Linked DNA regions of Homo sapiens. The protein of the gene in region 1 interacts with the protein of each later gene in a pairwise test. Each region holds a gene or a part of one and is shown on either strand. Other genes may lie near its edges.

Region 1 (11,832 bases):
AAGTTTATTCTTTGGTCCTCTGATTTCTATAGCACACTGTAGCTCACAAAATGAATTCCCTTTGATGGCTCCAACAATGACCCATAGAAAGACAATTCTGACTCTTGTTTCTTACCATCTGATCCTGTATTGCTCTTGAACACGTCAATGCTTTCATAAAATGAACACTTTCAAGCTTGACTCATCACCTTTCTCACAAAACCAGGTCCCTTTCTGACTTTTATAATTCTCATTTTCCAGGCTGTCTAGGTTCAATCTCTGTACAACTTTTGGTTCTTCCATTCTTCTCTTCCTCCTAGATATTCTCCTGTGAGATAAAAGAAACAAACTATGTAAAGCACAAAATATGTGGTATATGGAACATATTAGGTACTTAACAGGTGACAGTTCACTTTTTCTTCCATGATTCCTCGCAGATATATGTTTCTCTCACAGGACCCCAGTATATCTTTCTCACCATTTCATACTACACAATGTTACCACAGGCATTCTTTAAAATGTCCCCATCCACAAATCTTAGGTCTAATCCCTTGTAGTGGGGTGACTTGCGTCTCCCAAAAAGCTATGTCCAAGTCCTAATTCCTGGTACCACTGAATGTGAACTTTCTTGGAAAAAAAGTCTTTGCAGGTGTAATTTGTAATGAAGTTGAGGATCTCAAGATAAGATCATCTTGGATTTAGGGAGGGCCCTAAATTTGATGACAGATGTCTTTCTAAGAAAGAGAAAGATGGGGCCAGGCACAGTAGTTCATGCCTGTAATCCAAGCACTTTGAGAGGCTGAAGCGGGTGGATCATCTGAGGTCAGGAGTTTGAGACCAGCCTGGCCAAGATGGCAAAACTAGTCCTCTACTAAAAATACAAAAAATTAGCCAGCCGTGGTGGCACATGCCTGTAGTGTCAGCTACTCAGGAGGCTGGGGCAAGAAAATCACTTGAACCTGGGAGGCAGAAGTTGCAGTGAGCCAAGACCCCGCCATTGCACTCCAGCCCAAGTGACAGAGCAAGACTCTGCCTCAAAAAAAAAAAAAAAAAAAAAAGAATGAAGAAAACGGAAAGACACAGGGACACAGAATGGGGAAGGTCTTATGAAGACGAAGGCGGAGATTAGAGTGATGCTTCTTCAAAACAAGCAACACCAAAGATTGACCACAGCCACCAGAAGCTAAAAGAAAGATCTGGAATGTATCCTCCCTCAGAGCCTCCAGAGGGAACAAAACCCTGCTAACTGATTTCAGACTTCAGGTTTTCAGAAATGTGAGAAAGTAATATTCTGTTGTTTTAAGCTACCAAATTTGTTACAGCAGGCCTAGGAAACTAATATATCCCCTTAGCCTGATCTTGAAGATCCCTCTTAATCTGGCTTTAACCTACGTTTTCAACATTGTCTCTTACCAGTATCCTTTACAACTCCCCCCACTTCTGTATCCTGCCAGTCCCTTGATCATGCAGTGATTATTTGTGCATTTTGTCTTTTCTAATGTGATCCCTTTCCCTTTTTTAAAACTCCTATGTCTTCTCTATTCATTCTAATCCTAATCCTGAAACAAAAAGCCCATCTTAGTCTACAGTGGTTTATTTCCTATTTTGAATTCTTATCAAACACATTTGACATTGAATCATATTTTGTGCACACAGTGTTTGCTTTGCTTTTCATGTACGTGTGACTTTCCTTGAGGGAAGGATGATTTTTGCAACATAGAAACTATAGATTAAGTGAATGAAAACAGCAAGTATGGACAGAGAAAGCAGGTGTTTGGGTTGAATTATGTCCCCCTTATTTGCAAATTCATATGTTGGAACCTAACTCCCAGTACCTTAAGATGTGACTGTATTTGGAGATCTTTAATGTGACCCTTTACAGAGAAAATTAAGGTGAAATGAGGCCATAGGTGTGGGCCCTAATCCAATTTGATTGGTGTCCTTATGAAGGGGAGCTTACGATACACAGGGACAGAGAGCAGAGGTGCACATGCACACAGGGGGGCAACCATGCCATGTGCAGAGGCAGCAGAGGGCGGCCAGCTGCAAGTGCAGGAAAGAGGTTTGGAAAGGACCTTCCTTTAGGACTCTCAGAGGAAACCAACTCAGCCACCAGCCTGATCTTGGACTTCCAGACTTCAGAACTGTCAGAAATTACATTTCTGTTTTTTAGGCCACCCAGTCTGTGCTATTTTGTTACGGCAATGCTAGAAAACTAATGCAGCAAGTAAAAGGCTTAGATTAAGCACTGAAAAAATAAGAGAAGAGGCCGAGGTGAGAGGATTGCTTGAAGCCAGCAGTTTGAGACCAGTCTAGGCAACATGATGAGACCTTGTCTCTACAAAAATAAAAAATAAAAAAAAAATTAGCCAGGAGTGGTGACGTGTACTTGTAGTTCACAGAAGGCTTGTGTACTCAGAAGGCTGAGGTAGAAGATTGCTTGAGCCTAGGATTTCAAGGTTGTAGTGAGCTATGTTTGCACCACTGCACTCCAGCCTGGGCGACAAAGAGAAAACCTGTCTCAGAATAAAATAGAATAAAATAAAATATAAAATAAAATTTAAAAAAGGGAGAAATAAGACTAACATCTTTTCTACCTGAATTGATGACATTGTCTTCTCTCAAGTACCAGCCATAATCTTAAAATGGTAGACTATTTTACAGAGCCCTTAGTAAAGGTCAGTGACTTTTGGTTTTATTATACAAGCAGTATCACTTTAGTATAAAGTTCAAAGAGATCTGAGCGTGGAACTGGGATCTGGCCTCCACCACTCTTCATCTTTTTCTAGAATGTTATTATTGTCTAACCTATAGTCAAGAAGTTAATTGATAGTATTATGAGTTAATTTGCTAATCTAAAATTGTAAAAGGGTTAGCCATGGGGCTTAAGCCTATGCATTGTCTAGGATTAGTTATAAAGTACAAGGATTAGTGGGTCTATTGTGTATTTGCTTGGCAAAAATCGGGACATCGGTTATTTTATTTTTTATATATTTTTTGCAAAGCTCATATCAGTTTGTGCTTGTCTCTCCCTTATTCTTTTGCCATCCATAACCACCATTGCTTAGAGAAAAAGATGCATTAGAATTGATTCCATGTTATTCAAATTAAATTTGGAATCTTAGGCTTCCAAATTGGGAGGTAATTTTTAAAGGTTCATTGACAGAATGTAGTATGTCCAGAGGAAGGCATCCAAAATGGTGAGGACCTTACACACTGAGACACCTGAGGGTAGTTGAAGGAGCAGACATCTCATCAGAAATACATAGAGGGCTCTCTATTGCATGAAGATATCAGCTTATTCTCCATGGCTCTTGAAGTAAGAGTTGGGCCTAAAAGATGGATCTTGCTGATTTCATTTCAACATTGAATGCTGATTTCATTTCAACATTAAAACTTCCACTATGTAGTTTAATCTCTTAAGGACTAGAAGTAATGAAGAGTAGAGGCCTATTAAGTGGTGATTGATGTAGCCTAGTTGTTAAGAGACATAGAGTCCTAGCTTTACTACTTCTTAGTTCTGTGACTTAGTCAAGGCACTTAACTTCCCTTAGCTTTAGCATCCCCATCAAAATGGGATTACTACTTGTGCCTACCTCATTTTGAGTATTAGATAAAATAATGCATGTAAACTGATGAGGAAGCTGATTCTGAGCTGGGTGGTTTCACATATTTAGTCACAAAGTTCATCAATGCTTGTGCCCAGTTTTAAGCCCTAGCTTGTTTAACTTCATTATGCCACTTTGTTTCCAAGGTTCCTTCCCATATATAAAGGGGGAAAAATATAAATGGGATGGCTGAGGTGAGTACATCGAAAGGGAAAGGAATTAGTCCCACTCTTTAAGTTTGGCCACATAGTTAATGAAATGGTCTTATCAATGGAGTTATCCTGTTTAAACACCAAAAGGTGCAATTTCTTCTCCATCATCCCCAATCCCCACATTCTCTGCCTCCTCCCTTCATTGCTCTTTAGCCACTAGCAGGCTAGGTAGGGTGTTCCTAATCTGCAACCGGAATGTTTCTGGTAGGAGCCATTTCTCACCCACTCTTTGTCCTCTTTTATCACTTAAAATCACGGAAGGCTGTTCTGAAAGCGGCTGGGCTCCTTGTAACATTAAAAAATTATTAAACTCAGAAACTAATTCTGTTTTTTAATCATAAATATGAAAACTAGGAAGCAAACTGAGAAGAATGAAAGACCAAATCAGCGGATCTGAAGCAGGCCACTCTCAGGAAGACTCCTGAGGAATAATTAAGGCTAATTTTAAATATCACCTCCTGGGTATCATCATCACCATCGTTCCCAGGTACCTGTCTGAGATAGTCCATTTTGAAATAGATATACCTTAAATTATGTTAAAATGTACTAAGCACTTATTGAGCTCAGTGATCCTGAAATATGCCTAACAATAAGCTGCCTAGTTGCCACTTATTAGCTAGGTTTATGTCTAGGAGGTCTAGGAGGGACTATGAAGAATATGAGCTGTTTAATTAGGGGTACTTGTCATCACTAATGAACAACAAGAAATAGTTTGAAAACTTCTTTGAGATATTCACTTGCAAATGTCACCCGAATTTCAGAAAAGTACAGTCTCTGGAGTAAAGCTATTATACACTCAGAGAGACTGTTGTGCTTTGCATGCGTTATATCATTTAGTCCTCAAAACATGTTGTCAAGATTGGCATTATTATCTCCATTTTAAAGATGAGAAAATTAGGTGCAAAGAGCTTCAGTAACACACTCAAACTCATTCAACAATAAATAACTAAAAATTGTGCTATACACACTTTAAGAGTCACATGTTCCTCCCCCAAAATTATGAAAGGCCATAGAAGGAATTCAAGAAGTAGGCTTCATGACTTATCGTTTCTTCTCATCTCAGATGAATTCACTTTAATCTCTCATGCCCAAATTGTAAAATATCATTTTGATCACCGTCAATATTACACAGACCTGTTTGAATGTGCTCAGCTTTTTCAGTAAAATTAGAAGAAACCACAATTTACAAACAGGTATATGTGCATTAAGGAAAAAACAAAAAACTACCATGTGATTTTAGATATGGATGCCAATTCTTAAACATTGTTTATTATTTCTGAGCTCAAGTGCTTAGAATGTTTAAAATGCAATATATTTATGTGGATTTTTTTCCAGGATATTGGAACATATATAAAATATGCTTGTGCATATCTAAGCTTTGTATTTATTTCAGGTTATATGTATACTGAGAAGAATATATAAACAGTGTATGATATTTACATGTTATTTCATTTTTTGAGGGAAATTAACCTCCACAATTATTAACTATGCATAAAATGTAATGGCAGATATGACTTATATTGTATAGGACTGACTACAATTCCTCTTTAGAAATAGCTGTTCTTTGCTTTTATAATACTAGGAAAAGAGGAAAAGAGTTCTTAAAGAAATACAAGGATTCCTCAAGCCCCTCTTCCCTAAAACATGCTCTATCATATCTCCTGGATTGACTGGAATATCCTTCTCTGCCCCCACCCCATCACCCTCTCAATGCAGTGGAAAAGTCGGTGGGTAATTGGGTCCAGATTGGAGGTGTTTAAATATTCATGAGGCTGGCAGGGGACTGGGAGGGGGCGACTGTCTAGAATGGGGGTAGGGGCTGGGGGAAGTGATTAGTCACTGAAGGCTAGAGAACAATTCCGAGAAAGAGACGGAGAGAGAGGGAAGAAAAAGACAGATAGATAGATATTGGGGGGAAGGAGAAAAAAGGAGAAGAGAGGGAAGAGAGGACAGCGGAGAGAGAGCACCAGAGAGAGAGGGAGAGAGAGAGAGAGCGCTAGAGAGAGGGAGCGAGCATGTGCGATGAGCAATAGCTGTGGACCTTACAGTTGCTGCTAACTGCCCTGGTGTGTGTGAGGGAGAGAGAGGGAGGGAGGGAGAGAGAGCGCGCTAGCGCGAGAGAGCGAGTGAGCAAGCGAGCAGAAAAGAGGTGGAGAGGGGGGGAATAAGAAAGAGAGAGAAGGAAAGGAGAGAAGGCAGGAAGAAGGCAAGGGACGAGACAACCATGCTGTGCTGTATGAGAAGAACCAAACAGGTAGAGCTAAAGATTTTTTACTTCTTGCTGTTGTGAAATAACCCGAGTACAGTATTTCCCCGTAAAGGCAAACAATTTTTTTACTGCTTCTGCTCTGGCCGTGGTGCTCGCGCTTCCTTAGCATATGGTAACTGATGGTTGCATCCCAGCTTTTATTCTTTTCTGTCTTTCATGCTCTGGTTTTGGAATGCTGCTACTAATTAGGGTGAGGGTAGAAAAAACATGCCTGTTTGGCTAGAAATAATTTTTTTTTTTCTTATTAGTGAATGCTCAGCATTTGAGGTCTCTGGTCTTGAGGGTGTGGACGTAGAAAGGGGTGTGGGGGAGATGATGTGGGCTCTACCTACAAGATGGGGAGGCATTTCTTTATATTATTTGCAAAAAAGCAGGGTTGAGGAAATAATATTCAGAACTGAGTATTGCCTCTCTGTCATACAATTTTCTCACATGTGCTGCGGAAGATGCCTTATTTCGTGCATGCATGAGCTTCGAAGGGGCGCAGGTATTTATGGAAAAACGTGCAGGTCTTATTTATTTAGTATTTATTTTTCAATGAATGAATGAAACTGTGATTTGATAGATTTTTTTTTTTTTTAAGAGAAGCTAAGACAACTGGGGCTGGGGGAGAAATTGGCCATGCAGAAGGAGAAAATCCCCTTCCTAAGATCAGCAGCCGATTGTGCACCAGCTGGTCGGAGGAGAGGGTGGACCACGCCCCTAGGAGCTCCGATGGGATGGGAAAGACAGCCGGGTATTACCTGTTGGAAACCAGGTCTTTTCTCTTATCCCCTTCCCTTGCTTCTTTCCTGGGATTGTCAGTGACCAGAGACAGGCTAACATCCTGGATAATAAGTATGGTGACTCATTTTCATCAGGAAGAGGGACACATCCAAGATTAGCAAGAATCAGAGCCCCTCCTTCCCTCCCCCACTGCCCAGGTTTTACAGCCATTTCCAATTGCTCGCTTATTTCTTGAAAGACATTTTAGAAACTTGATTGGGGTGAGAGTGGGAAGGAATGACGAGTGTGGTATTCCGCAGCAACCGACCATGCCATGGCAGTCTCCAAAAGAAGCTTTCAAACATTTGTTGGAATGCATTTGAGTGATTTTGGCAAAGGTTAAAGAGAAAAATGGGTGTGGGATACGGGTGAGTGTGTGCGTATGCTTGACTGTGGTGGGGGTGGGGGTGTGGTGGGGGCAATCTTGGTCAAAGAAGCCCTTCGCAGACTGATTGCCTTAGGGGTGGGGTGCAAGAGATGGAATTTGGGTATAATTTCCAGTGCAGGTATTGGAAATTGGGCAATTTGTAATACACTCCCTGAATCCGAAGGGGGTGGAAGAGAGTGGAGAAGAAACAGCCTGCCAGCTTAGCACATTTAGCCAGCGCCCTGGAAGGAAGGGTGGGGAGTGAGGATGAAGGAGAAGGAGCAGGAAGAGGATGGGAGACTGAAGCAGAATGTCAGAGCAGTGGGAGTAGAGATTTGGCATAAATAAATAAATAAATAAATAAGCAGACATCCTGGATTGTGTGGGGCTATTTGGGGGAAAAAGTCGGATAGTGGGGGATTGAGTTGGGGGCGGTATTTGCAGCATCTCCTGAAACTGCCCTATGGTTACAGAGATTGATGCTTCCATTGGCTCATTTTATCAAACCAGGGCATTTTCTCTCTGTGTCCTCCTTCATTTTAATATATAAATGTAATAAATACAGGTGTCTGGGTTAAGAACACTGTCAAAGAAAAGTCCTGAGGTTATTTCACTGGTGAGCTGGGGAAATAACATTTAGGAAGGTGGAGCACTAAGTAAGCCAAAGCCATCCACTTAAAAAGCTTTAATTTTGGAAAGAAAAATATTCAGGTTCATAATTTGTTCCCACCCTATGTGTACATATGCAAGTATACATACATCTCCTTTAATAAAGGAAATCATGTATGATTTTTAGAAAAGGAATTAGGGCTAAAGGAATTCCCTTCCCAAAATGAAGACAGCTGCCTTCCCTGGGGCTCTATCTCACCAACAGCCCCAAGCATTCACTCTGATGTGCAAAGTGATGAAGCTGAAATTGTGTTTAGAGTTGTAGAAATTCGCATGTAAATGTATACAGCATCCACATACTTCATATGCTACAGTTGCATGTGTAAGTGGTTTCCACATGCCTCTCTGTGTTTTAGCATCATTTATATTCAAGAGAAAATTAAAGGTATAGAAATTGTCCTACTTTGCTCATGCATTTTATAAATGTGTACTTCTGTGTGAAATGGTCATGTCTCTTATAAACCACTGTTGTGTATCATTCACATTAGCCAGTATTTAGGATACCATTCAATCAGACTAAAGGAAATGGTGTATTCAGGGCGTGGGCTCACACTACACTGACTGGCATTTATGTAGCATGAGTACTTAAGTCTCACGCAGGTTGCCTGCTTGTGGATGAAATTCTGTATCATTTATGACAAAATCCAGTGGTGCCCATCCTTCTGCTGGCATCTATTCATCATCGTAGTACTTAACAGGGAATAAAACAAGGGCAAAAACCTGCAAAGGTCTAAGCTCTGCCACACCCATAAAATCCAGCAGAAACGTGGGAGGGGGGCTGAAGGGCTTGCACTTCCTTCCTCTTCCACTTGAGCGGCATAAAGAAGCAACCTTGGATTTCTAAGTTGGAATACATTGCCAGTGGGTGAGAAGAAAGCATAAATGATCTCTATTAGCCATTAGTTATCACTATAGATTATTATAGCAGGAAGAAGAGAATGAGAGTGGGGTAGAGATGAGAATATGGTAAAGGAGTGGGCAAAGGAGGAATAAAATAAAATAATCCCTAATATTGTATTGCCTTATGATTTTCAAATATCTTGGGGCTTACTTTAAATAGCTTAATTGCCATGTGTATTGCAGATGATTAAAAACTTGGCAAGGTGTGATTTATGTCTACAAAGCAAGAAAACTATGAGGTGTTTCTTTTGTTGAAAAATAATGACTTTAGTTTGTAATTGAAGTGTAAAGAATTTCATGCAAGCAAGTAGTCCCTCTACTCCCCAGCCCCCCATCCATGCCAATATCTGCTTTTTTCCTCATGCAACAAATAAATCTTATCTCTGAGAGTGTGATCTGTGGTTTAAAATTCCGACCTCTCTGCCTTTCCTTGCAGTGTTGGGAAGGTGTGGAAGGATGCTGCCTTGCTGCTTGGTGCAGGCGATTCTTCCTAGTGATAAATTGGATTCCTCCCAAATCTCTCTGAGCCACACCCAGTGTCACTCAGGGACTTAGTGAATTAATTAAGCTGAGCCATTTTACTTAATATAATTGAAGCTTCTCGTTCTTTTTTTTTTTTTTAATAGTGATTTTCACCACAGGTTTCCAAATTTAAACAGAAAAAATATTTGAAGGGCATTTTCTTTCTTTTTTCTTTCTTTTTTTTTTTTTTTTGCCAAATTATCTGGACTTGCAGAGAACCTTAGAAAATTCATGGTGAGTCTAGAAAGTGTTCATTTCTGGTGACTCTATAATTCCTTCTAACCCATGCCAGGGCGCATACACAATGAGCCCTGATCTCTCCTGCTGACAGAGTCTGTGTAACTCTCTTCCCCACCCCCTCCCCTACCAACCCATGCTGAGGCAACTGGAATAAGAAAATGCAGAGTTAATTTTCTTTCTTGCTGAGCTGGCAAAACTACAGAAACCTCCTTTGATGTTTCAAGCTAAAGGGCAGTACTCCTGTTCACCGAGAGGGAGAGTGGCTTGGGGTCTCCTTTGCCTCTGTCATAGTGAAATTGCCAGTGTTATTCCTGGGGCTGAATTAATCCACAGACTTCAGAATTTTACCTGGCCCCATAAGGAAGGGTACTGGTGTTCTTTCAGGCAAGAATAGAGCATATATATTAACCAATCGTATTGATAAAGTAAGACAAGTCTTCCTCTATTAATAGTTCAAAGAATGCACATAACCAGGTCATCTCAAGAGAAGGTATAGCAGCATTTAACTATTCACTTCCCTATTAGTATTAATAAAGGCATTAGGGCAACCAAGCAGTGGCTGTTGCAAACCAAAGAAGTGATTTCATACAGGAATTCTCCCTTTTCAATTTGTGAAGTGTGGTCAGGTGGCTTTTGTACCTTTGTAATTAAATCTTCATAACATTTTCAGAAGTGTTGGGAAGAATATTATACTGTGAGTCCTTAGTGGAGGCCACTTACTGACTGTGAGCTTTAATAAACCACATCACCTTGGGTTTCAGTTTCCTTCTGTAGAATGAAGAGTAAAAACCAAAAACCAGACACAAATGAACACTTTGCTTACCTTAAGGATTTTTGTAGGGCTTAAACATACTTGATGTGAAAATAAAGATCAATATAAGAAATTTTTATTCTCCCCAAGTTTTGCAATTTGAGGCTTGTCTTAGAGGCCCCAGTTTTGCAGGATGATCTAGTGCCTGCTGTGTCTACCTTTCCCTGTTAGAGATGAGTTCCTTCTAGTCTTAGTTGAGCCTTCTGCTTGTGCTCTTGCTCCTCCCCCCGTGTTTTCCCCAGAGCCCCAGTCCCTCATGCCCTGCTCTTTCTTGAGATTTCATCTTCTTGTGCTGCACTGGCTCCTTTCCTTATAGTTTATGAATATGCTTTTGCCTCATCTATCTTAAAAGATTCTCTCCTGACTCTATGTCCCCATCTCTATAGTTCTCTGTCTCACTCTCCCTTTAGAACAAAGTTCCAAGTACTCTCCACCCTCATTTTCTCCTCTTCTTCACTCCCCATTCACTATTCCATCTAGTTTAATTTGGCTTTGATTTTCATAATTTCACTGAAAAACATATTCTGAAAGGGTGTCACATCCAGTGACCCTTCATTTTACATCTTATTTGATGTCTCTTTGGCATTTTGTGTTGTTGTCAATCCCTGTTCCTGAAACTGTCCCCTTACTGGGTCTGCATGATATTAATAGCTCTCCTTATTCTCCCTCTCAGATAAGACCCTGCTCAGTCTCCTTATAGGCTTCTCTTGCTCTCTTCACCCACCTCCCCAAATCTATGATCTCCTGGATCATAATCTTCATTCATTCCACTCTTCTCGTTTGACTCACTAATCCTAGGTGATCTCATCAGGTCATCCACATCCAAATCTTTAGCCACCTGTGTGATTTCCAGATCTGTAGATCAGATGTCTGTTTTTAGCTTCTGATCCATAGTTATCTTGGTCTAAGTGCTTCATTTCAGAGACAAGTTTGTTAGGTACAAAACCCAACTCAGTGTCTTCTGTTGTGTATCACACTTGATCTTCCTCACTACAATTATTGCTCTGATACTGTCCATCCAGCCTCAGAGCTCTAGGAACCTGAGAGTAATCCTGAATGTATTTTATTTCAACTCCCATATCCAGTTTCTAAATCCTTTGATTCCTTGATTCTTGTTTAAAAGATTGAATAAATCCTCTGCTTTTCTACCCTGTTTATATAAATAACCTGGCACAGACTTTTCATGACTACTCATCTGGACAAAAGCAGTAACTTTCTATGTGGAGTTCTACCACCACATTGTTCTTTAGTTTACCTTGCAAATAACACCACAGCTATCTTTACAAAATGCAAATCGGGTTTTGTTATTTTCTTTGTTAAAATATAAACTCTTCAGCATCAATGACACAATCTAGTTTTGCCTGCTTTTCTAGTGCCAAATTCCAACAGCCCCCCTGCTCTTTTTTTTTTTTTTACCTGATGACACCATGCCAAGATTTCAGGCCTTGGTGCCTTCGCTTGTACTCCACTCTCTGCCCATGTTACCCTTC
Region 2 (12,120 bases), on another chromosome or scaffold:
CGGAGAAATGGCCGTCAAGCCCTTTGATGTTCTGCTGTGGTTGCGAGTCATGCACTGTATCCGTCTGTTAAATCAGCCACAATATTTTCCCCAGCGTTTGCATCATTTCACAGCCCCGCCAGCAATGTGGGGCTGGCTGGCTGGCTGGCTTGCTGGCTTGCTTGCTTTTCTTTCTTTCTTTCTTTCTTTCTTTCTTTCTTTCTTTCTTTCTTTCTTTCTTTCTTTTTCTTTCTTTCTTTCTTTCTTTCTTTTTTTCTTTTTCTTCCTTTCTTCCTTTCTTCTTCCTTTCTTCCTTTCTTTCCTTCCTTTCTTTCTTTTTCAGAGGGAGTCTCGTTCTGTCACCCAGGCTGGAGTGCCGTGGGGCCATCTCAGCTCACTGCAACCTCCGCCTCCCGGTTTCAAGCAGTTCTTGTGCCTCGGCCCTCCAAGTAGCTGGGATTACAGGTGCCTGCCACTATGACTGGCTAATTTTTATATTTTTAGTAGAGACAGGGTTTCACCATGTTGCCCAGGCTGGTCTGAAACTCCTGACCTCAAGTGATCCACCTGCCTCGGCCTTCCAAAGCACTGGGATTACAGGCGTGAGCCACAGCGCCCGGCCTCACTTTCTCTGCACACTGTCAACATCCCTGCAGTCGCTATTTTTAACCTTCAGCCATTCTCTCTGCGGCAACACCTCCTTGTGGTCTTAGTTGCATTTCCCCAGTGGCGGGTGATTCCGAACCTCTTTCCAGGTGCTTGTTTCCATTTGCATGTTGTCGTGGGTTAAATGTATCTTCACATCTCTTGCCCGTTTTTAAATTGTTCTCTACTGCTGAGTTTTGTTTTTTTTTTTATTGTGGGAAAACATGCATAACATGAAACTTACCATTTTAGCCATTTTAAAGTATGAAGTGATACTTAGTACGGTCACGGAATTATACAACCAGCACCGCTGTTTAGTTCCAGAACTTTTTACTCCCCAGATGGAAAATCTCAAATCCATAAAGCATTTACCTCCCCTTCCCCCATCCCTTCAGCTCCTGAGTAACAATGAATTTACTTTCTGTCTCTGTGGATCTGCCTGTTCTGGGTATTTCATACCAATAAAATCCTAAAAGCTGGGCATGGTGGTACATGCCTGTGGTCTCGGCTACTTGAGACGGTGAGGCAGGAGGATGGTTTGAGGCCAGGAGTTCGAGACCAGCCTGGGAAACATAGCAAGACCCTGGTCACTATTTTTATTTATTTATTTATTTTTATTTATTTGTTTTGAGATGGAGTTTCACTCTTGTTGCCCAGACTGGAGTGCAATGGCGCGATCTTGGCCCACTGCAACTTCCGCCTTCTGGGTTCAAGCAATTCTCCTGCCTCAGCCTCTGGAGTTGCTGGGATTACAGCACCACCATGCCCAGCTAATTGTGTACTTTTCATGGAGGCAGGGTTTTGCCATATTGGTCAGGCTGGTCTTGAACTCCTGACCTCAGGTGATCCGCCCGCCTCAGCCTCCCAAAGTGCTGGGATTACACGCAGGAGCCACCGCGCCTGGCCCCAGAATTTCATTCATTTTAATGGAAAAATCACACTGCATTTGGTTCATCCATTCACCTGCTGAGGACGTTTGGTTTATTTCTACCTTGTATATATTGTGTTTGTTTGTCTGCTTGAGACAGAATCTCGTTCTGTTGCCCAGGCTGGAGTGCAGTATATGATCTCCGCTCACTGCAACCTCCGCCTACCAGGTTTAAGTGATTCCCCTGCCTCAGCCTCCTAAGTAGTGGGACTACAGGCATGCACCACCACACCCCCTAATTTTTGTATTTTTAAAAAATATTTATTTATTTATTTACTTTAGAGACGGACTCTCACTCTGTCACCCAGGCTGGAGTGCACTGACCTGATCTCAGCTCACTGCAACCTCCGCCTCCCGGGTTCAAGCTATTCTCCTGCCTCAGCCTCCCAAGTAGCTGGGATTACAGGCACCTGCCACGCCCGGCTAATTTTTGTATTTTTAGTAGAGACGGGGTTTAACCCTGTTGGCCAGGCTGGTCTCCAACTCCAGGTCTCAGGTGATCCACCCGCCTCGGCCTCCCAAAGTGCTAGGGTTACAGGCATGAGCCACTGTGCCCGGCCAGTACTTTGTGTATTTTCAGTGGAGATGGGGTTTCACCATGTTGGCCAGGCTGGTCTTGAACTTCTGGCCTCAAGCAATCTGCCCACCTCGGTCTCCCAAAGTGCTGAGATTACAGGCGTGAGCCACCATGCCCGGCCCCTTTTGTATATTGTGAATAGTGCCGCTGTGAACATTTACATACAAGCTTTTATTTGAACACCTGTCTTCACTTCTTTTGGGTATGTAACATACCCACTGAGTCATATGGCAACTCTACGTGAAACTTGTTGAGGAACTGCTGGACTTCTTCTCACAGTGACCATTTTATATTCCCAAAAGCAGTGAATGTCTCCTCATCCTTAACACTTGGTATTTTTATTTATTTATTTATTTATTTATTTACTACCATGGCCATCCTAATGGATATGGAATGGTATCTTACTGTGGTTTTGATTTGCATTTCCCCAGTGACTAATGAGGTTGAGCATCTTTTCAAGTGCTTTGTGGCCATTTGTGTGTGACATATGTATATTTTTTGTTTGTTTGTTTGTTTTGGGGACGGAGTCTCGCTCTGTCACCCAGACTGGAGTGCAATGGTGCGATCTCGGCTCATTGCAACCTCCACCTCCCAGGTTCAGGCGATTCTCCTGCCTCAGCCTCCTGAGTAGCTGGGACTACAGGTGCCCGCCACCATGCCTGGCTAATTTTTTTGTATTTTTAGTAAAGACGGGGTTTCACCATGTTAGCCAGGATGGTCTCCATCTCCTGACCTCATGATCCGCCCACCTCGGCCTCCCAAAGTGCTGGGATTACAGATGTGAGGCACCGTGCCCAGCCATATTTTTTTTAAGACAGAGTCTCGCACTGTTGCCCAGGCTGGAGTGCAGTGGCGTGTTCTTGGCTCACTGTAACCTCTGCCTCCCGGGATCAAGCGATTGTCCCACCTCCGCCTCCCAAGTAGCTGGGATTATGGGCGCCCGCCAGCATACCCAGCTAATTTTTGTATTTGTAGTAGAGACGGGGTTTCACCATGTTGGCCAGACTGTTCTCGAACTCCTGACCTCAAGGGATCCGCCTGCCTCGGCCTCCCAAAGTGCTGGGATTACAGGCGTGAGCCACTGAACCCGGCCATTTGGGTATCTTCTTTGAAGAAATGTCTATTCAAGTCCTTTACTCATTTTCATTATTTATTTTATTTTGAGACAGGGTCTCACTTTGTTGCCCAGCTTGGAATATGTTGGCTCAATCACAGCTCACTGCGGCCTCAACCTCCTGGACTCAAAGGATCCTCCCACCTCAGATTCCCAAAAAGCTGTGACTATAGGCTCACGCCACCACACCCAGCTAATGTTTGTATTTTTAGTAGAGATGGGGTGTCTTTCTTTTTTTTTTTTTTTTGAGACAGAGTCTTGGTCTGTTGCCCAGGCTGGAGTGCAGTGGCACGATCTTGGCTCACTGCAAGCCCCGCCTCCCAGGGTCACGCCATTCTCCTGCCTCAGCCTCCTGAGTAGCTGGGACTACAGGTGCCCGCCACCACGCCCGGCTAATTTTTTGTAATTTTAGTAGAGACGGGGTTTCACCATGTTAGCCAGGATGGTCTCGATCTCCTGACCTTGAGATCCGCCCGCCTCAGCCTCCCAAAGTGCTGGGATTACAGGCTTGAGCCACCAAGCCTGGCCTGTTGTGGAGGATCTTCTATACATAAGACCATGTCATCTGCAAGTAGAAATAGTTTTCTTTTCCAATTTTGGATACCTTTAATTTCTTTTTCTTGAGTAATGCTCTTGCTAGAATGTCCAGAACAATGTTGAACAGAAGCAGCAGCAGTGGGCATCCTTGTCTCTTTCAAAGGCTTTTTGTTTCTCACCATTGAGTATGATGTTAGCTGTGTTTGTATTTTGTTTGTTTGTTTGAGACAGTCCCCCTCTGTCATTCAGGGTGGAGTGCAGTGGTGCGATCTCGTCTCACTGCAGCCTCCACCTCCTGGATTCACGTAATTCTCGTGTCTCAGCCTCCTGAGTAGCTGGGACTGTAGGCGTGCGCCACCATGCCCAGCTAATTTTAATTTTTGTATTTTTAGTGGAGATGGGATTTCAACATGTTGGGCATCTGGTCTTGAACTCCTGATCTCAAGTGATCCACCCGCCTCGGCCTTCCGAAGTGCTGGGATTACAGGCATGAGTCACGGCGCCCGGCCTGATGAAGTTTGTTTCTATTCCTAGTTTATTGAGTCTTATTATCATGAAAGGGTTTTGAATTTTATGAAATGGTTTTTTCTGCATCAGTTGGGATGATCGCGTGGGTTTTTCTTCATTCTGTTAATGTGGTGTATGACATTGAATTTCGTCTGTTCGTTCACCCTTGCATTCCTGGGATAAATCCCACTGGGTTATGGTACATAATCCTTTTAAAAATGCTGTTTTTCGGCCAGGCACTGGCTCACGCCTGTAACCCCAGCACTTTGGGAGGCCAAAGTGGGCGGATCATGAGGTCAGGAGTTTGAGACCAGTCTGGCCAACAGAGTGAAACCCTGTCTCTACTAAAAATACCAAAATTAGCTGGGCATGGTGGCACGTGCCTGTAGTCCCAGCTGTTCAGGAGGCTGAGGCAGGAGAATAGCGTGAACCCGGGAGGCAGAGGTTGTGGTGAGCCGAGATCACACCACTGCACTCCAGCCTGGGTGACAGAGTGAGACTCCATCTCAAAAAAAAAAAAAAAATGCTGCTTTTCTGGCAGGCAGCACTTTAAAAGGGACTGTGTTTGCTCATATTTTTTCGAGAACTTTTGCATCTATATTCATAAAGGATACTCATTTGGAATTTTCTTTTTGTGATATCATTACTGTTGAGTTTTGAGAATTATTAATCTTTTTTGTATACAAGCCATTTGCTGGATATATGATTGCTAATTTTTAAAAAAAATTTGTTTCTTTTTTAATTTTAATTTATTATTTATTTATTTATTTATTTATTTATTTATTTATTTTGAGACGGAGTCTCGCTCTGTCGCCCACGCTGGAGTGCAGTGGTGCGATCTTGGCTCACTGCAAGCTCTGCCTCCCGGGTTCACGCCATTCCCTTGCCTCAGCCTCCCGAGTAGCTGGGACTACAGGTGCCCGCCACCACGCCTGGCTAATTTTTTGTATTTTTAGTAGAGACAGGGTTTCACTGTGTTAGCCAGGATGGTCTCGATTTCCTGACTTCGTGATCTGCCTGCCTCGGCCTCCCAAAGTGCTGGGATTACAGGCATGAGCCACCTCGCCCAGCCTATTTATTTATTTTTTGACACAGAGTCTTGCTCTGTTTCCCAGGCCAGAGTGCAATGACGTGATCTCCGCTCACCGCAACCTCTGCCTCCTGGGTTCAAGTGATTCTCCTTCCTCAGCCTGCCAAGCAGCTGGGATTACAGGTGCACACCACCACGCCCGGCTTTTTTTTTTTGAGACGGAGTCTTGCTCTGTCACCCAGGCTGGAGCGCAGTGGCACAATCTTGGCTCACTGCAATCTCCGCCTCCCGGGTTCATGCCATTCTCCTGCCTCAGCCTCCTCAGTAGCTGGGATTACAGGTGCCCGCCACCACGCCCGGCTGATTTTTTTGTATTTTTTAGTAGAGACAGGGTTTCACCGTGTTAGCCAGGATGGTCTCGATCTCCTGACCCTGTGATCTGCCTGCCTCGGCCTCCCAAAGTGCTGGGATTACAGGCGTGAGTCACCACGCCTGGCCAATTATTTGTATTTTTAGTAGAGATGGGGTTTCACTATGTTGGCCAGGCTGGTCTTGAACTCCTGACCTGGTGATCCACCTGCCTCGGCCTCCCAACGTGCTGGGATTACAGGTGTGAGCCACTGCGCCTGGCGTAGACAACCCAATTTTTAACAAAAGCAAAGATTTTTAACAGGCACATTCCAGAAGAGGGCATGCTGACAGTTAACAGGCACATGGGAAAAGTGGTCAAACATGAGTAGCCATCAGGAAAATCAACGACGTCCTACTACACTAAAATGGAAGAAACATTGCCAGACGTGGCCATTTGCAAATGTCGTTTCCTGGTCTGTGTCTTTTGATTCTCCTGACAGCATATTTGAGTTAATTTTTTAATGTGTAAGGTATGAGTGGAGGTCCTCATTAAAAATTGTTTAGGCTGGCTGTATGGCTCATGCCTGTAATCACAGCACTTTGAGAGGCTGAAGTGGGAGGATCATTTGAGCCCAGGAGTTTGAGACCGGCTGGGCTAACATGGCGAGACCCCGTCTCTACAAAAAATAAGAAAATTAGCTGGGTGTGGCACCACGCATCTGTAGTCTCAGTTGTACAGGAGGCTGAGGCCAGAGGATCACTTGAGCCCAGGAGATTGAGGCTGCAGTGAGCCATGATTGCAGTAAGATGTGATCACATCCAGTTACATTTGATTTTCAGATAAACAACAGAAGTTTAGTGGAGGCTGGGGGCAGTGGCTCACAGCTGTAATCCCAGCACTTTAGGAAGCTGAGGCAGGTGGATCACCTGAGGTCAGGAGTTCGAGACCAGCCTGGCCAATATGATGAAACCGTGTCTCTACTAAAAATACAAAAAAATTAGCCGGGCGTGGTGGCGGGCGCCTATAATCCCAGCTACTCAGAAGGCTGAGGCAGGAGAATCGCTTGAACCCGGGAGACGGAGGTTGCAGTGAGCCAAGATTGTGCTGCTGCACTCCAGCCTGGGTGATAAGAGTGAAACTCCATCTCAAAAAAAAAAAAAAAAAAAAAACAAATTGGGGTTGTCTGTCTTTTCTCATTGTTTCCATTGTTTCTGGATCTGTGTGTCAGAGATGTGTGCTGCACACATCCTTTCTCCGCCTAGCTTGGTTTTCACTCTTGGTGGTCGCAGACATCTTGGGGGCTACTTGAAGGAACTCTAAGCCGACCAGAGGCTGGGCTGGACTCGCCGTTTGGCGCCCAGCCGGAGACCCCAGGGCCACCCTCCCCGGTTCCATCCTGGGAGAGAAGAAACTTCCACTGTCCCAGTCTCTCCTGTGGTGACTTCTTTTGCTCAAGGGTTCACAAGGGCAGCAGACTGATCTGCACAAGAGGGACTGAGCCTGGCTGCGGCCGCACCTGATGCCTGTGCACACCTGTCCCTGGTGGTCTCTCCTGTGGTGACTTCTTTTGCTCAAGGGTTCACAAGGGCAGCAGACTGATCTGCACAAGAGGGACTGAGCCTGGCTGCGGCCGCACCTGATGCCTGTGCACACCTGTCCCTGGTGCAGGCCCTTCCCCCGCAGCCCCGTGACCTTGTCCTGTGAGGCTCACGGTGCCTGCTCCTTCTCAGAGTCCTCATTTCTCCCTTTAACGCACGCCCTGTCAGCGCCTCCGTCTAGCCCGTGTCCTCCAGACCTTCGAGGTCAGGGGCCTCAATTCCTGGCACAGCCCCTCCACTCCAGGCCTCCCAGAAACAGACTAGAGCATCAGGATGTGCGCCGCCTGGGGTCCCACAGAGTGGTGCCCCCTTTTAGTGTCTTCTAGGCCCCTTAGTGACAGACTACAGAAAATACCTCTCAGGTCACAGGTCACCCCTCTTTGGTGAAGAGTCCATAGAATTCTCTGCTGCGCTTTGCAAGCACTTTCTCTTCTGCACGTTTGGAACCTACCCCGGCCTGTCGTGTCTTTCTCCTGGCCTCCTCGCGAGCCGAACCTACTGTCCGGTCCCGGGACCCCCTGCCCAGGGTCAGAGGGGCGCCTACCTAGCTCACGGTCTTGGGCCGGAGGGAATGGAGGAGGGAGCGGGGTCGACCGCTCAGCTGTCCGCCCAGTTTCGGAGGCGGCCACGCGAGGATCAACTGTGCAACGGGTGGGGCCGCGGCTGACCGTGGTGGTCGCGGGGGCTGAGGGCCAGAGGCTGCGGGGGGGGGGCGGCGGGATGAGCTAGGCGTCGGCGGTTGAGTCGGGCGCGGAGTCGGGGGCAGGGGGAGCGGGCGTGGAGGGTGCGCACGAGGTCGAGGCGAGTCCGCGGGGGAGGCGGGCAGAGCCTGAGCTCAGGTCTTTCTGCGTCTGGCGGAACGGGCCTGGGAGGGAGGTTTTGCCAGATACCAGGTGGACTAGGGTGAGCGCCCGAGGGCCGGGACGCACGCACGGGCCGGGTAGGATGGCGCTGGCGTCGATGCCCGCGCGCTTCAGGGCCTGGTCTGGCCGCCCCTCCATCCTTGTCGGTTTCTCGGGTCGCGGACCCCGCGCGGCGCCGGGCGATGCTGGCCTGCCCGTGGCCACCACCTCGCTTCATTCCCGTCTCTTTGGGCCGCCGCATTCGTCCACGTGCCCGTCTCTCCCTGCGCAAAATTCCAAGATGAGCAAATACTGGGCTCACGGTGGAGCGCCGCGGGGGCCCCCCTGAGCCGGGGCGGGTCGGGGGCGGGACCAGGGTCCGGCCGGGGCGTGCCCGAGGGGAGGGACTCCCCGGCTTGCGACCCGGCGTTGTCCGCGGTGCTCAGCGCCCGCCCGGGCGCGCCATGGGGAACCGCAGCACCGCGGACGCGGACGGGCTGCTGGCTGGGCGCGGGCCGGCCGCGGGGGCATCTGCGGGGGCATCTGCGGGGCTGGCTGGGCAGGGCGCGGCGGCGCTGGTGGGGGGCGTGCTGCTCATCGGCGCGGTGCTCGCGGGGAACTCGCTCGTGTGCGTGAGCGTGGCCACCGAGCGCGCCCTGCAGACGCCCACCAACTCCTTCATCGTGAGCCTGGCGGCCGCCGACCTCCTCCTCGCTCTCCTGGTGCTGCCGCTCTTCGTCTACTCCGAGGTGAGCCGCGTCCGGCCGCACGAGCATCCTCACCTGCTCCTCGGTTCCCCGTCCCTGTCCCTACGGAGGACCCGGCGCGACCCGGCCCCTTTCTGGTGCGGAGCTTCCAGCTGGGGCGGCGGCAGGGGCGCTGCGCCTTGTCCCTCGGCGATACACCCACCGCCGCCACCTCGCGACCTTCCACCCGCTGCGCTGTCTGTCCCCCGACCCTCGTTCCTCTTCTCCTTCCCCGTCTGTCTTGGCGTCTGTTATCCAGGAGATGCCCGTCCTTCTATCCAGGGACCCCGGAAACAGGCGACTTTGTCAAGCCCAGTCCCCTCCGTAGCTGGATTTCACCTCCAGGGCAGCCAGCTGGACAGACAGGCAGATGCAGGCTCAGCCCCCTGGCTGCCGTGGGACACACACACACACACACTGCCACAGCCACTGCCCACCACACACACCTAGTGCAGATGCTGGCACACCCCCAGAAGGAGGCTCACAGCTCGCAGGGGAGACCTGGGCTGGACAAAACCCAGGGGAGGGGAGGGTGTGTGGGGACCAGGCCCCTGCTGAGAACCCTGGGGGGAAGCCTGAGGGGGAATTGGGGGATGGAGCCCACACTCCACACCAGGTCTGGCCCTCGAGTGGGTCGGCCTTGGTGCCAGCCCCTCTGCGGCCAGAGAAAAGCAGCTTAGGGCTGAGCTGGAGACGCGGTGTCCCCGACTGTGGGGGAGGGGGACTCGAGGTTTCCCCTTGATGGACACAGTGAATCCAGGCGGCTGGGGCAGAGACCAGCAGCACGGGACACGCGTGACCTGTGCTCCTTTCGAGCCGCAGACGTCACAGTGACGACGTTTAAGCTCCTAATCTCCCCAAATCGGCGGGAAGGATTAGAGGGGCTGCCTGCTCCTTTGCCCTTGGAGAGAGTCACTCCACGTGGAGTCCTACGCTGGGCACTGGGCACGGTCTTCATATTTTTAATTATAATTTATCTTCAAGACAATTATGATGTGGATACTATCATCACCCTTGTCTTACAGATGAAGAAACAGAAATGAATTAACGTGCCCGAGTCTCCCACAGAGAACTTAGCCAACAGAGCAGCCAGCTTCGCTTCTAGGCCCAGCGGGGACCCTGCCTACCCCAGGCTGGGGAGGGGCTCCCTTTGAGCCCGATGATATCAGGCCCGCCCCCAGGGAATTCCCCAGGCCGTTCTCATGTTTGTAACAAAAGGGAGACCAAGGCCAGAAGCCGTGATTCACGCCTGTAATCCCAGGACTTTGGGAGGCAAAGGCAGGAGGATAGTTTGAGACCAGCCTGGGAAACATACCAGGCCTGGTCTCTACAAAAAATTTTAAAATATCAGCCGGGGGTGGTGGCTGCGGCTGTTGTCCCAGCTATTCGGGGGAGCTGAGGCGGCAGAATCGCTTAAACCTGGGAGGCGGAGGTTGCAGTGAGTTGAGATCTCACCACTGCACTCCAGCCTGGGCAACAAGAGCGAAACTCCGTCTCAAAAAACAAAAAGAAAAACAAATCAGCCGGGGGTGGTGGCGCGCGGCTGTAATCCCAGCTACTCTGGAGACTGAGGTGGGAGGATCGCTTGAGCTCAGGAATTCCAGGCTACAGTGAGCCATGATGGAGCCACAGCACTCCAGCCGCGGTGACACAGCGAGACCCTAACTCAAAACAAAGGGAGATCTGCGTGGGGAAGGGGTGTTTCCCTGCCCGGTCCTCTGGCCTCTGGCTCACAGCCGGGCCCCCTTCTCCGTATTCAGCCCTGGAACTACCCATAAGAGTGGGGGCGGGTCACAAGGGCCCGCGGTGGCTGGGAAACCTCAGGGCCTGTGGTGTCGCCGCGCAGGTCCAGGGTGGCGCGTGGCTGCTGAGCCCCCGCCTGTGCGACGCCCTCATGGCCATGGACGTCATGCTGTGCACCGCCTCCATCTTCAACCTGTGCGCCATCAGCGTGGACAGGTGCGCCGCCCTCCCCGCCCGCGCCCCGGCGCCCCCGCGCCCCGCCCGCCGCCCTCACCGCGGCCTGTGCGCTGTCCGGCGCCCCCTCGGCGCTCCCCGCAGGTTCGTGGCCGTGGCCGTGCCGCTGCGCTACAACCGGCAGGGTGGGAGCCGCCGGCAGCTGCTGCTCATCGGCGCCACGTGGCTGCTGTCCGCGGCGGTGGCGGCGCCCGTACTGTGCGGCCTCAACGACGTGCGCGGCCGCGACCCCGCCGTGTGCCGCCTGGAGGACCGCGACTACGTGGTCTACTCGTCCGTGTGCTCCTTCTTCCTACCCTGCCCGCTCATGCTGCTGCTCTACTGGGCCACGTTCCGCGGCCTGCAGCGCTGGGAGGTGGCACGTCGCGCCAAGCTGCACGGCCGCGCGCCCCGCCGACCCAGCGGCCCTGGCCCGCCTTCCCCCACGCCACCCGCGCCCCGCCTCCCCCAGGACCCCTGCGGCCCCGACTGTGCGCCCCCCGCGCCCGGCCTTCCCCGGGGTCCCTGCGGCCCCGACTGTGCGCCCGCCGCGCCCAGCCTCCCCCAGGACCCCTGCGGCCCCGACTGTGCGCCCCCCGCGCCCGGCCTCCCCCCGGACCCCTGCGGCTCCAACTGTGCTCCCCCCGACGCCGTCAGAGCCGCCGCGCTCCCACCCCAGACTCCACCGCAGACCCGCAGGAGGCGGCGTGCCAAGATCACCGGCCGGGAGCGCAAGGCCATGAGGGTCCTGCCGGTGGTGGTCGGTGGGTTCCTGTCCTGAGGGGCGGGGAGGAGAGGAGGGGGGGGGTACGAGGCCGGCTGGGCGGGGGGCGCTAACGCGGCTCTCGGCGCCCCCAGGGGCCTTCCTGCTGTGCTGGACGCCCTTCTTCGTGGTGCACATCACGCAGGCGCTGTGTCCTGCCTGCTCCGTGCCCCCGCGGCTGGTCAGCGCCGTCACCTGGCTGGGCTACGTCAACAGCGCCCTCAACCCCGTCATCTACACTGTCTTCAACGCCGAGTTCCGCAACGTCTTCCGCAAGGCCCTGCGTGCCTGCTGCTGAGCCGGGCACCCCCGGACGCCCCCCGGCCTGATGGCCAGGCCTCAGGGACCAAGGAGATGGGGAGGGCGCTTTTGTACGTTAATTAAACAAATTCCTTCCCAAACTCAGCTGTGAAGGCTCCTGGGGGCTGATGGGGAGTGGGGAAGAGGGGTTTCTGCCTCAGTGGCCCCAGGCCCCCCAGCCAGTTAACCTCTTTCTCCCCGCCAAGGAAGCCCACAGAGCAGACCCCACCAAGCCGGCCGCCTGCT

The links.
Region 2: the proteins of GAP43 (region 1) and DRD4 interact in binary tests that used the Homo sapiens proteins (3 or more experiments, as listed by UniProt).

Annotation. Positions count from the first base shown.
Region 1 is NC_000003.12:115,617,667-115,629,498, forward strand, and holds the start of GAP43 (neuromodulin), read left to right. Parts: upstream 1-5,843; 5' UTR 5,844-6,023; coding exon 6,024-6,053; intron 6,054-11,832. UniProt on the Homo sapiens protein: This protein is associated with nerve growth. It is a major component of the motile 'growth cones' that form the tips of elongating axons. Plays a role in axonal and dendritic filopodia induction.
Region 2 is NC_000011.10:628,732-640,851, forward strand, and holds DRD4 (D(4) dopamine receptor), read left to right. Parts: upstream 1-8,537; 5' UTR 8,538-8,573; coding exon 8,574-8,858; intron 8,859-10,701; coding exon 10,702-10,814; intron 10,815-10,916; coding exon 10,917-11,575; intron 11,576-11,669; coding exon 11,670-11,872; 3' UTR 11,873-11,975; downstream 11,976-12,120. UniProt on the Homo sapiens protein: Dopamine receptor responsible for neuronal signaling in the mesolimbic system of the brain, an area of the brain that regulates emotion and complex behavior.